Linked DNA regions of Homo sapiens: region 1 is linked to region 2. A link means that fine-mapping ties the variant in region 2 to the expression of a gene that starts in the linked region. Tissue or cell type: nucleus accumbens. Region 2 holds a variant in brackets; the other region holds the start of a gene. All regions are shown on one strand. Distances are between the middles of the regions.

What was found. PIP is the estimated chance that this variant, and not a neighbour inherited with it, causes the effect.
Region 1: it holds the start of NAALAD2, and the variant in region 2 is the best candidate, but not a certain one, in a credible set for the expression of NAALAD2 in nucleus accumbens (GTEx, PIP 0.70).

The regions. Positions count from the first base shown.
Region 1 is chr11:90,132,178-90,136,425 of GRCh38, forward strand. NAALAD2 (N-acetylated alpha-linked acidic dipeptidase 2) reads left to right here and starts at 2,486. Exons shown (of 19, transcript NM_005467.4): 1 at 2,486-2,663; 2 at 3,382-3,493. The coding sequence starts at 2,582. RefSeq lists an enhancer at 2,390-3,093.
Region 2 is chr11:90,213,449-90,217,696 of GRCh38, forward strand. CHORDC1 (cysteine and histidine rich domain containing 1) reads right to left here. Exons shown (of 11, transcript NM_012124.3): 3 at 1,726-1,782; 4 at 570-727. Among named protein-coding and RNA genes, the nearest start is that of CHORDC1, 7.5 kb to the right of the region's middle. The variant T/C (reference allele first, on the strand shown) is at 2,255.

The DNA of each region.
Region 1 (4,248 bases), 81 kb before region 2:
CTACAGAGACGACAGTCATATTTGAGGTAACATTGCTCATTCTTGGAACTCTTTAATCTAATTTTAATTTAGGGAGATTATTCAAACTGGCAAACTGTGTTAAATAATGCATTGATTTATTCTATTACTCAAACTTCAATTAGCAATAAAAAACACAAAATGAGCAAGAAAAAATAAATTTAATAAATAGCTTAGCAACTTTATTCATTAGTTTCTACCTTCTCTTTCTTCAGTAAATCTTTTCCTGGAGATAATTTTGATCTGCCTCTTGAGGGCTATGTAGTCAACAGTGAATGGTCCAATGGGTAGCAAATAGAAAAAGCCAAGAGTCTAAAAATTGACAAATTACACAATCAATACCCAAAATGTTTATATGTACAAAAATAACATTTGATATTGTTTGAGACCTTTGTGTGTCACCTGTTAAACACTGGAGAGTTATTAAAATCCCAGTATTATTTCATAATGTCACACATAAAAATAATTCTGAGTGCTCTTGGAAAATGTTTCTTAAGCCATATTTGAGGGGTTTAGTTACTTCACTGGATATTGAACCTTTTGAATAATTCTATTCTAATTCCCTATATTTGGTGTTGTGTGTATGCATATAAGGGGGAACAAACTCACTTTGTTATGAAAATGTTTTTTGAAAGATGTTTCTCTCTAAAATAAAAAACACTGGAGGAGTCAGTCAAGGAATGTCTAACAGGCTAGTAGCTGAAAAAGCTGAAGTTAGTTGGGACTTAAATTGCATGCAAACATTTAGAAATCAACAGTTCATTAAGGAGGTTTGCTTCAAAGTTAAGTACCAGGTATGCTACAAAAGTTTCAAGAAATAAGTTATTAGGCATACCTATCAACAATTATGTTCAATTGATAGCCATTGAAATACAAGGACAAAAAAAAGTTATGTCCCAGAAAAATAAATTTCACTCTTCCAGTCACTTGTTAGGAGCAAAGGTGCATTACCTAAAGCTATCAGGGCTGCAGACAATGCTGTGAAGTTTATCCTAGATATACTACCATCTTTGAAATCAACATAGCAGTTTTGCTTTGGCTGAAAAAACTACTTTTGGTTAGATACGTGAAGCCAATCATAAATTCCTAAAATTTTTCTCTGAGATGAGATGGTTGGATGAAGGCTATTTACAATGGCCACTATTTTGCAAACCCATCTTTAAAGAGAAATGCTTCATGAATGTAGCATGGTGAGGACAGGGGAATGACAGGGACCATTGCTAATGTAGGGGTCAATGGAAAGCTTCCCCTTCACCCTCTGAAGTTTTGCTGGAAAATCAACTCACAAAAGGCAGACTATTAGAAAAAAAAAAGGCTTACAAATTTATGAATAACATAGCATAAGGGAATCGTAGTAGAATGATTACCCAATAACCAATGAGGTACAGATGATAATATACCCATCTTTTTAGAGGAAAGGAAGATGAGAATGTGTGTATAATTTTAAGAGGGTAGTAAATGAATTTTAGGGAAATTCAATGGGCTTGAAGAATATGCAATGGCCTGGGACAAAGTCTGTTGGCCCTACAGGGCAGACGAGAGTTTGTAACAGAAGGCTGCCAGTTGTATTGACAGACTGCAGTCCTTCTTCCTGAGATATTAGTTCGGTTAATGAAAACTCAGGAAAGAAACTCTTTTTTTTTTTGTTTGTTTGTTTTTGCCTTTAGTAGTTCTGGACTTTAGGCAGATAAGGGAACTTTAGAGAACAGCTTTATTCTGTGCTATGGGAGAGACAAAGGATTGAGAGAGAGGAGCTGGAAGAGAGGGGTATGGTCAGAGAGACCCCCTGGCTTCTTCGGTTTAGCATGTCAAAGCACCATATTTTGGGAAATTGGTGTCTGAGCTTTAGCATTAAGAACAGACTCTCAGTAACTACTGGCAGTGCAAGGTCCTTTCAGTGATTACTTTTACTAATGTGAACCTAAAACATTCCAGTGAGGTAGGTAAAAACCTCAGTTAAATGAGTGGAAACAGAATTACAGAAATGTGGAGTTTTGTTTAAGTAAAGGGGAACAAAAAAACGCAATCCCATCGATTTTGATGCTGACAGTGATTGCGGTATTAGTGATGTTAACAGCTTTAACAGCGGAGCACCCAGGACCAGAAATCATTTCCGAGTCTGACGAGTGGGAAATTACAGCAGAGAATCTGGAAGAAGAATAACCAATAGATCAGGAAAAGCAATACTTAAATTCACTTCTGAGCCGAAACTGGGCATTTTGGGGGATGGGCATGGCAAACAGCAGTAGAGTTCTTTAGGAAAAAATTAGGGACGTTTTCAGCAGCTCCCGCCACCTACTATGTCCGGGTTACTGCGGGATCCACAGAATGGAAGTTGCCCGCCAACAGGAAGAATGTCTCCTCCCTCTGCAGGGCTTCCTTTCCCCCATCGAGGGCCCCTGGGGACCACAGGTCCCCAGCGGGTAGGGCGGAGGCGTGGCCTTGCGAAGGTCAGCGGAGGCCACCCAGAGCTCACAGCCTCCTGCCAGCGCGCTCTCTGTTTCTCTGCAGCCCCGAAGCTCGCGAATGTAGCAGGCGCCCCAAGCTCGGTCCTCAAGAAGCCATGGCGGAATCCAGGGGCCGTCTGTACCTTTGGATGTGCTTGGCTGCTGCGCTGGCATCTTTCCTGATGGGATTTATGGTGGGTAAGTGAACAAAACACTCTACCCCGACTCCGGGGCTCGTGATTCTCTGCAGAGATAAAGGGAGAAATCCTGGAGCTGGAAGGGATTGGGCTGTGCGCTAGCCCTGGCCGGCTGGGCTAGATATGATAAACTCTGCACATTTCAGCAAAACTAGAAACCAGATGGAATGTATTTTGGGCTTGCTAATAGATAAAGTGTGCTTGAAATTCAAATTTATTAAATGTTCACTGAGTTCACTAAAGACAACCTACAGCTGTCACTGTCTGCAGGGATGAAAAAAAATCGTTTTATTTCCAAGCAACATTAGTGAGTCAAAACTTTCAACTAATACGGGCAGCATTAAAAACAAAGCAAAACGAAACAAAGCAAAACAAAACCCTGCTCTATACGTAAATAAATATTTGTGGAATGTTCCCTATGTGTCAGGGACTAGAGATCCAGGGAAGAACAACAAAAGCCATGCCTTCATGCATAACGTGAGAAAATGAAAGAGCTTCTCTTAAATAAAACTCCTTTTAAGCATCTAAAAATTATATTACATATCAGAATTTACAGGTTTTCTGCATTTAATATAAACATTATTTTTTAAAGCTCACCATGATCTACTTGTCAGATAAAGGCTTTTTGGGGGGAAGGACAGAGGGGTGGCTTCTAGTTTTAATAAAGTCAAAGTGATTTTGTGTGTATGTGTGCATGTTTGTGTATTTTTTTTCCTTAGGCTGGTTTATTAAGCCTCTCAAAGAAACGACCACTTCTGTGCGCTATCATCAAAGTATACGGTGGAAACTGGTATCCGAAATGAAAGCTGAAAACATCAAATCATTTCTTCGGTAAGTTTATTTTACGTATTTGATCTTAAAAATCATGTTTAAAATATCACAGTGAGAAGCATATTATACCTGGTTATATGCATGAGGACAGTCTTCTCTGTGTGAAATTACATATTAGTCATCAACTTTTTTTTTTTTTTTAATGTCTCTTTACACCAGTCTTGGGGTGAAAAAGTAGGTCTTTCTTCCCTAACTTTATGTAACAAAAAGTATCTGGTTGGCTTATTGAGAGATGTTTCAACTTCATGTAACTTTGGATCTAACTGAATGTTATTCTTTGTTCATCAGTGCCTGGGTTTTAATCAGCAATTTTCTTAGATACCATATTCTGTCAGGGAAAGTTAGATGATGGTTGACTAAGTGATTTAGTGGAAAAGTGATCAAAGTGTCTGATTCTGTCTGCCAAAAGTTAAACCTTTATCCCATCTTGCAGGTATAAATTTGTTTTTTACAAATAAGACAAAATGAAACCAAAAAGAATCATTGCCATTCCTCCAGCTTCTAACCATGAAAAACAGTGGAAATTGGGGGAGTGATCATAAACTCCTTAAGAACAATGGCCATGGTATTTATTTCTGTATTCAGACTCTTTCAAATGGGTGTTATTTTTTAAAATCAGCTTTAGTGAAGTATAATTTACATAAAATAAACTGCATCCCTATAAAGCCTACAATTTGAGAGTTATGACAGACGTATGCTATGCTGAACAAACCACCTCCTCCATCATGCTACAAAAATATTCCATTATGCCCTTT
Region 2 (4,248 bases):
TGTGTGGGAATACAGAGTCTGGTTATCAGAAGGCAAGTATGAAGAATCTGTACAACTCTATTGCACAATGAGCAAACGCTTTTTTAAGACTACTTTCACAAATATGTCATCTAAATCAAATGCATTAAAAATTGACCAGTAGTAATGAGATTAACGGTAGTTTTCAGGCATCTGAAAGTAAAGATGGATGATTAGGCCTCTGCATTATTTTCTACTTCAAACTCATGCCATGAAAAGGAAAACTGCTTCAAAGAATTTTACCATGCCACAGTGAAAAAGATGCACTCTAAGGCACAAGAAAAATGTGACTTCCCTACCCTGATGATACATGTCCCTGTAATTATGACAGTACAATATGCAAATCTGTTATGTAGTTATATTGTGTACATGCTCTCAAGTTGAAGAGAAATAAAAATTTAAGGCAGATTTAAGGGAGAAACCAAATGGTTCAAAGCTTGGTGGCCTACATAGTAGCTACAAATGGTATCATGCTAAATCATAAAGGAAAGTACCATGCACAAGTGCTACTATTCAAGTGTGACAAAAATATGTAACTGTATAAAGTATACCTTGGTCTTTTTATTGCTTCTACTGGCTTAGGGGCTTGAATGATGTGTTCCTGAAATTTGGGTTTTAATTCACATAGCTCCTTCTTCTCAGTAGTCTTGACTTCAGGTTTGACTGGCTCAGGTGGCTTCTCACTATTATGTCTACCTTTTGTACAGCCCTGTTAGTGAAAGATAATTCATTAAGAGCTATCTATTTTACATTTCATGATAGAAATATTATCTTTTCAGTTCTTTATTGATAGTGATTCTATTTCATGTTTTCTCCAGTTTCAATACATTGATTTTAAGAAATTAAAAACAGAACTCCAAATTTGCCATATTTGCTGAATCTCTGAATGACGGCTTTTTTAAAAAGTCTTTGAATTACACTTCATAAACATCTACTTATTCTATTAAAAATATGGCATAAACCTCTTGTTTACAGAAGAATTCTGGAGAATCTCACAAAGAACTGTAAAAAATAGTTATACAGAAAAATCTGTTACTCGAAAGGCCTCAATTTGAGACCTAGTTCTCAACATACTTATTAGTTATATGACCTTAAGCAAGATAATCTTTTTAAACCTCCATCTCCTCATTTGTAAAATGGAGGTAATGTCAGGTAAGATATTTTCTGAGAGAGTTAAATAATAAAATGCCTGGCACATTTGGCAGGTGATAACATTCAACAAACGTTAGCTACTTTTCTACTACATTCTACTGAATTATACATACTCTTTAACACCTCTGAAATGATACAATCAATAGCATTATCAGTTTGTTAGTAGCTTTAGTTTTCTTAGTGGTATATAAAGTGGTTTTATATAAAAGTGGTATGTAAAATATTTCAACAGCATCTTAGATAAAACTTTATCGTTCCTAACTGAAAAGGCTTTAAATTGTTGCTTACCACTTTCTCCTTGATGTTCTTTCAACATAACAGAAAGAACAAACCTAAAATGATAAGCAGGTAACTGATACCTTAAAACGTTAATTTCCAAAACAGATTCTTTATTTTACAAGCTGTGGAAGGGAGATGAGCTGCTTTTTGAAAGGTGTTATCTGCAAGTTGATGAAGACCAATCAATCTATATCAGAAATCAGACTCCTCAAATCTGAAGCTTTCTATAACATGTATTTTTAGGAAGATAATCTAGAAAAAATAATTAGTACTTACTACAATGCTTAAGAAATCAGAAAAATCAGTTGTTCTTCTCTTACAGCAAGACCAACCCTATGAAAAACAAGAGAAGGAAACTAAAAACTCTATTTGCATGAGAAACACGACCCACTAAAACACTCTACTTGCACTTATCTACTTGAATCCTGCAGTAACTTGCGTATAGAGTGCAAAATTTCAGTGTTGCATATAATTCACCTAATCAAGTAAAATGAATATTAATCTTTGATTTTTAAAAAGCCAATTAACCAATGTTAAAGTGATTTGTGCTATGCCCTATCATCAAGGGAAGCACCTTTATAAAACAAAAACTGTTTCTCTTTTCAACAATCGTGTCTGCTTTTTTTTTAGAAGAAAAACATGTTATAATTCCTAAAACTATCATATTTAAAGAATATTCAAAATAAGTATAGGTATTTTACTTTTAAAATCTATTAAGTTAAAGATAGTAACTATCTTTAGTTAATTTTAATTTCACAATAAGCATTCTATTTTCAGAACAACAAAGATTAATTAACACAGCAGC[T/C]AAAGCACTATTAAGCCTTTGAAGGTGATCTTTTCAGTGAGAAGCATAAAGACAGAGAAACTATTAGTATTTGTGATTTTTGAACAAACTATCAAGTAGTTTACCAAAAAATGGCTTTAATAATTATCTCTAAATTCCAATGTTTATAGAGCATAGGGAAACAAAAATGCAAAATCTCAAAACTTGGAACTTCAGATTAAGATTTGGGACTAAATTCAGATTAAGATGCAACTTTGCACACATCCGCCTGGACCTCGCTGATTTTCAAAAGACTGCATAAAAATATGGTAGTGATTTTTCTCATTATATGCACCTGTAGGTTCTTTTTCTTTAAAGGTAATTTCAAATATCCTATAATTCAAATTTTCCTTTAATTTGAAATTTAATTATCTTTTACTCCGAATTGAGATGTAGATCAATTACTACAACCTTAAATATAGGGTTTAAATAGCATCAATAATATAGTCAACAGAAAAGTTATTCTATAAGAGAAAAAGTTTTACTGTCTTAATCATGTACTAAATTATGTCAGATACTGTGATACACACATGTAAAATACAATACAGGCCAGCTGTTCCCAAATGCCAATCTGGATTCTATGCTAGTCTTCAGTACAATGAGAAAAGGAAAGATAAATTTAAGTTATGTGAATATAAGGTTGCTAGTTGTCTTTTTTCAGCAAGATTGTCCTTTTCTCTGAATATGCCCCTTCTAATATTAAAATAGTATTTCTTTTGTCAATGCAATGTTTAACTTCTTACTTGGTCAACTAGTATCCCTGTATTGATGTATACGCATTTTGTCTGAAATCTTCTGGACTGTGAAATCCAATAATCTTGGAAAGTCTAGGACTTTAAGAAATGGTTATAAAATAGAGACCACAATAAACACTACAACTGCAAAAGAGAGAGAAGCAAAAATACTTCAAAGTGAATTCATTAAGACTTGGAGTGATTAACAATGCGGTAAGAGAAAAAACGGGCAATGGACCAAATGATCAGAAAGTCAGTAGTATCATTACTAGGAGCAGTAAAGTTGAGAGGCAGACTACTTTTGGAATAAACGGTACACACTAGAAACTGGTTTGATGTTGCCAATGAGACACATAAATAGAAATATGTTGTAAGAGCCATCGGCGTAGAGGTGACATTTGAGAAAACCAATGAATGAACTGAATGAGAGAAAACAGCCAAAGGTTACCTTTAAGAGCTAAGAGGAAAACAGCATAGGGAAAAAAAGAAAAAGACACAGTAAAACAAAAATATCAGAAGAAATGGCAGTCTAGGAAAAATAAAATTCCACAAAAAGAAAAATAAACATTTCCACAGCACCACAGTTTCCACCACAACAAAGATTTGTAAAAACTAAAAAAATGTATGGAGGAATAAGGTCTCAACTTGCCCTACTGAATGTCTTCTCTGTTTTCCTCACTCAGAACTAACCAGACTAATACATCTTTTGTTAGATTTGGTGGTGTTAACAGTGAAGTGCCAAAACAGTCTAACTACTCTTTGGAAGGTATAATTAGACATTTAAAGGGCACCAACAATATTTAAACATGTTAAGACTGCTTATGTTCCTGAGAACCAAAGAAGTAGAACCTAAAACCATGGCAGCCCTACCACAGCATCATCTTTTGAGATATACAAAGGAAACTCTTTAAATGTATCATACTATCATGAATTTTAAAAAGATGACCAGCAAAAACCTAGTCAAACAACATTCCACCAATTCTCCAGAACATCCAAGAAGTATAGCTGGAAAACTCACAGGTCTGTCCCGAGATTGGCACTAAATGTTTATAAGAATCTTTTCTAAAATTCAGAGCTGTTATTAGCCAGTAGTGACAGACTGAGATTCAATACAACCACTCTATTTTCCCTCAAAATTAGAAAAGTGAAGAAATGGGTGTAGAAAATGAAAATTAAGACCAGGCATGGTAATCCCAGCACTTTGGGAGGCTGAGGCAGGTGGATCATCTGAGGTCAGGAGTT